Regions from separate parts of the Homo sapiens genome. Here region 1 is linked to region 2. A link means that fine-mapping ties the variant in region 2 to the expression of a gene that starts in the linked region. Tissue or cell type: sun-exposed skin. Region 2 holds a variant in brackets; the other region holds the start of a gene. All regions are shown on one strand. Distances are from middle to middle. Region 1 holds the start of NALCN (sodium leak channel, non-selective). Region 2 has its middle 10 kb from the start of ITGBL1.

The links. PIP is the estimated chance that this variant, and not a neighbour inherited with it, causes the effect.
Region 1: NALCN starts here. The variant in region 2 is fine-mapped to the expression of NALCN in sun-exposed skin (GTEx, PIP 0.96).

Annotation. Positions count from the first base shown.
Region 1 is chr13:101,414,818-101,417,644 of GRCh38, forward strand. It overlaps NALCN (sodium leak channel, non-selective), which reads right to left and starts at 1,691. Exons shown (of 44, transcript NM_052867.4): 1 at 1,496-1,691. RefSeq lists enhancers at 492-1,042, 1,043-1,593.
Region 2 is chr13:101,441,002-101,443,828 of GRCh38, forward strand. No RefSeq gene overlaps it. Among named protein-coding and RNA genes, the nearest start is that of ITGBL1, 10 kb to the right of the region's middle. The variant A/G (reference allele first, on the strand shown) is at 1,132.

The DNA of each region.
Region 1 (2,827 bases), 26 kb before region 2:
ATTTATTCTGCAAACAGATTATGTCTTCTATGAACACAGAAGAGGATCCAACTGAACCTTTTCACTTTTTAAGTTTTTCTCCAAAGCTGGATTTTGTCTTCACACTGTCTGGTTTTAGCAGTGGCTAGGTCAAAGTATACTACAGAAGAACGAAAAATCGACTCTAGAAAAGCACGCAGAATGACAGCCAACCAGTTAGGGAGTAAATGTTTCTCGTTGCAGATGTTTGGGAAGCCATGATTTTTATTTAGAACTGTGGAAACCTTATCTTTGAATTTAAAAAGCCAGTCCTGAGATGCATCTGCCTCAGGGGTAACTACCATAGTGAAACCGCTCCTCTCCCAGGCCATATCAAATCACAGTTGTAGTTATGAACATACAAATCACACACATATATATATATATATACATACATATATATTTCAAAATCGCCACCTGTTAATTTTTGATCCCCTATTAGAGGTGTTATCCACCAACTACTAACACGAAGGTCACTGGTCCTCAACCCACATTTCACCACCAGGGCAGTCGGGCCTAGCTGATGACCACACGAACACCAGATTAAGAGTAAAACCTTCTGAGGCCTGAAAGTGAGCGTGTATTCACACATCCTTAATAATACAGTGTCTGAAAAATTGTACCTGAAACTGAAAGATTTATTCTAAGGTATTTCAAGCACTAAGGGTCTGAGTTCAGCATTCTCACACCATCCTGAAAGAGGAACATTAAGTCAGCAAAATGACTGCGATCTGGGCCCCCAGAGGGATCCCAGCCAGGCCATCCTTGCTGGTGTCTTAAAGATTCAGTGACAAAATGGTGTTGCTTGGCAGGACACTGTTTTGCGTTCGGTGTAGCCACCCTAATGACGGCTGCTTAACAAGGCCAATGAATATCATAAGGGACATTTAGCAAGGAGCAATCCACAGGAGCATGGGGGTGGGGCAAGGCCGCGGAGCCCCCGCGGAGACCTGCTGGAGCCAGGCTGCCCACCCCCACCTCCCCACCCGCGCGTTGGCCCAGAGGTTTACCCAGGCAGCGGCCCTGGTGCCGAGGGGGCAGGTGCAGCGCTGTAGTGATGCCCAGTGGCCTCGTCCTCAGCCACCTGCCCCCCAACACCTGCTAGATGCCCAGGCGGGGCAGGCCCGAGGTGTCGCCGGCCCTGGGCTTCCCAAGCCAGCCCAGGGGCATCCCGCGGCAGGCGCCCCCGACACCCACGCGCAGGAATAGGGAGGGCGCATCGCGGCTCCCGCGCCCCGGCCAGGCCGGCAAGGACCCCACCGCCCCGCTCTCGGGTGGAGGCGCCCCTCCCCACCCCTCCCCCGCGCGGGGCCCCCGCCCGCAGCCCCTCTAGCAGCCCCTCTCGCAGCCCCAGCGCCCCTGAGCCGTCCTGGCCCGGACCGGCCAAGGAACTAACGAGCGCGCATCGCGGGCCTCGGGCGCAGGGCACGGAGCCGGCCGCGCCGCAGCCTCCCGGGCACCGGCGGCGGTGACCAACCTGTAACCCCAGCGCTCAGAGCTGTCATGGTGCCCGCGGGCGGCGGCGGCGGCGACAGTGGGCGACCGGCAGGATCAGTGCCAGGCGCGGCGCCCAGGGCGGGCGGGGACGCGGGCCCCTCACCTACGGCGGCTCAGCTCAGGCAGCGCGCTCGGCCCGGCTGGGGCCGCGGCTCACGCTCGCCGTGTCACTCACTGAGCGCCGCCGCCGCCGGGCAGGCTGGGGGAGGGGTGGGAGCCGGAGTTTTCGGGCCTTTAAAAAATTATTATTTTATTTAAATTTTTAAAGTTAGCTTTGCTACAGGGACTGCAGTGATGCCGAAGGGCGGGCACCGCAGAGGAGGCTGCGCCGCAGTTGGTGGGGAGCGCCAGGGTCGGTACTGGCAGTTCCTTCTTGCCGGCTGCCACCCGCAGTCAGTCTCACAGCAACAGCTAGGCTCTCATCTGCGAGCTCCTCTCGGGGGTCTTTCGTACTCAACAGCACGGCGGCGGTGTGCACGGGAGTCCGCCGGGCACACGCGGGGTACACTTAAGTGCACTGCCAGGAGGCCGGGAGCCCAGCGTGCGAGCGTGAGGTCAGACTGTGCACGGTACCGAGGACTAGTTCCATTCCTGAGTATGAAAGGGTGAAACCGTTCACCTCAAGTTTCACCCCGGAGTTATTAAATAATGAATGCATCAGTCACACTTATAGTTTTCTAAATAGGTTGACGTTCGCCTTTAAAATTAAAATATGTTGTCGTGTGGATGAGACAAAGTCTATTCAGAAATTGACAGTCCCCCACCCCATACCCTGTGAGTATACCTGGACAGCAGACTGCATCTGAGGCTTCCTAGGGCTCCCAGCAGAGCAGGTTTAGGGAAATCTGGCCTCCTAAGCACCATGCCCAGGGCGACATCCTCCCACTCATTCCCACTCTCTGAAAGGTTTACTTTGGGTCTGGAATCTTGCCATGTAGTCAGATACGAAAATCCCCAGGGAACTCCTGACCAGTGATTTAGACATCATGCACACAGGCATATAAATAAAGGGAAAGAAACAACTGAATGAAGCTTTCTCTACAAGAGAAATTCTAAACAAAGAGCATTTGTCTATCACAAAATGTTATGTGGCAAGGTATAGAAGTAAAACTACACAAACCTACATTTTAAAAATGTATTTTCTGGTTACAGATATTTAATTAATCTACTTTCTTAAAAAGTCCATTCACAATTTGTTCACATTCATAATCCATATTAGTACGTTTTATTGTTTACAGGGAAATGTTAAAATATTGGTATTTCATGAAATACAGAGTCATGCGAGATAATTTTTCAAATTTCTAAAGACTTC
Region 2 (2,827 bases):
AAAGCAAGACCAAGCAAAAAGAACAAATCTAGAGGCATCACATTACCTGATTTCAAACTCTACTATAAGGCCATAGTCACCAAAACAGCATGGTACTGTTATAAAAATAGGCACACAGACCAATGGACCAGAATAGAAATAAACCCAAATACTTACAGCCAACTGATCTTCGACAAAGCAAACAAAAACGTAAAGCAAGAAAGGATACCCTATTCAACAAATGGTGCTGGGATAATTGGCAAGTCACATGGAGGAGAATGAAGCCAGATCCTCATCTCTCACCTTATATAAAAATCAACTCAACATGGATCAAGGACTTAAATTTAAGACCTGAAACTATAAAAGTTCTAGAAGATAACATCAGAAAAACCCTTCTAGACATTGGCTTAGGCAAAGATTTAATGACCAAGAACCCCAAAGCAAATGGAACAAAAACAAAGATAAATAGGTGGGACTTAATTAAACTAAAGAGCTTTTGCATGGTAAAAGAAACAGCAGAGTAAACAGACAACCCACAGAGTGGGAGAAACATCTTCACAATCTATACATCTGACAAAGGACACATATTCAGAATCTACAAGGCTCTCAAACAAATCAGCAAGAAAAAAACAAACAATCCCATCAAAACTGGGTTAAGGATGTAAACAGACAATTCTCAAAAGAAGATATGCAAATGGCCAACCAATATATGAAAAAATGCTCAACATCACTAATGATCACGAAAATGCAAATCAAAACCACAATGCAATACCACCTTACTTTCACAAGAATGACCACAATCAAAAAATCATAGATGTTGGCATGGATGCAGTGAACAAGGAACACTTTTACACTGCTGGTGGGAATGTAAACTAGTACAACCAATATGGAAAACAGTGTGGAGATTCCTTAAAGAACTAAAAGTAGAACTATCATTTGATCCACCAGTCACACTACTGGGTATCTACCCTGAGGAAAAGAAGTCATTATAAGAAAAAGATACTTGTACATACATGCTTATAGCAGCACAATTCGCAATTGCAAAAATATGGAACCAGCCCAAATGCCCATCAATCAATGAGTGGATAAAGAAACTATTATATATATATATATATATATACACTTAGCCATAAAAAGGAATACTACTTAGCC[A/G]CAAAAAGGAATGAATTAATGGCACTTGCAGCAACCTGGATGGGAGAGCATTATTCTAAGTGAAGTAACCCAGGAAGGAAAAACCAAATGTCGTATGTTCTCACTCATGAGTTGGGGGCTAAGATATGAGGATGCAAAGGCATAAGAATGATACAATAAACTTTGGGAACTTGGGGGAAAAGAGTAGGAATGGGGTGAGGGATAAAAGGCTACAAATGGGGTTCTGTGGATACTGCTTGGGTGATGGGTGCACCAAAATCTCACAAATCACCACTAAAGAACTTACTCATATAACCAAACACCATCTGTTTCCCAAAAACCTATTAAAATAAAAAATTTTAAATATACATAATATATATTTTATATAATGTATATTATAAATTATGTAATATATTTTAATAGTACATAAAATATTTTGTATGTTAAAATATATAATATTTTATATTATATTAAATATATAATATAAAACATACATATAAAACTTACATATTAGAGTTGGAAATGAAATATTTATATACATTTATATATAAATTATATGAATATATAAAACACATATGTATATATGTTTATGTGTGTATAATATACGTGTGTGTCTGTATACACACGTGTACATATGTGTGTGTATGTGTATCTGTTCTTCATCTATTACTAGAAGACACTGTGGACAAATACATAATATAATCATAGAAGTTCAGCATTAGAGAAAACTGATATTCCCTTCAAGCATGCCCTTGTGGAAACAGAATTTAGGAGGTTAAGAAACCTGGCCAAGGTCTTCAGCTATTGGATTACAAAGGCAGCAGCACAATTCATCTCTGAACGGTTAAGTCTCCATGCCACTTGTGTGCCTAGTTACGTGTGTGCCTAGTTACATCCTCCTGCTTATTAACAGCTAAATACCACTTTAAGAATTAAAAATCTATTCATTGGCATAAGAATAATATTTATGTGATAAGTTTCTTTTCCCCTAAAGTCAATGAAAATGACTCCTAGAATTTTTTCCTAAAATTTCCTTCTAGCATCAACTAGAACGGCCGAAATATTCAGAAGAGTGAAAGAATATTTCTCATCCCAGAGACTCCTAATATTTCCAGGTGTTTTTGCTATGTGGGAGGGAAAAAAAGCCCTCTGGTTCTGTGCTAACATCTGGAAAAGATGTTAACTATACACCTTTTTTTTTTTTCTAATTCCACAGATCTGGCTCAGCTGAGAAGCTCTTTTTCTTGGAAATGCAAACTTATTTTTATTGCTGCCTGGGAATATTTAGCCTTCCTGAAAACTTTGGTGTGCCTTTTACTATTTGAAAACCTGGAAGGTGCCTTTGAGTGAAAATATCATTCAAGTAGGTTTTGAGTGAAATTGAGATTTTTTTTAAACTTCAAACTTGACTGTAAGTGATTGTAACAATTAGTGCCACACATATATGGAGAGTTCAGTAGGTGCTGTTTATTATCTAACTGTAGATTGGCTTTCTTGATGTTTTTTCATAATAGATAGAATTTTCTTTGTTTTTATATTTTAGTTGCCTAAATTCATCTCATTACCGCACGTTGATTTTTGCCTTCCATTAAGCTTGAAATACTCTCATTTAGTTCAAAAGGTTGAGTTTAATCAACATGTTATTAAAAATTTTAAACCATTTATTATTCATTTATTTTATAATTCATTCTGTCAGCAAATACTTGTTGAGGCTTTT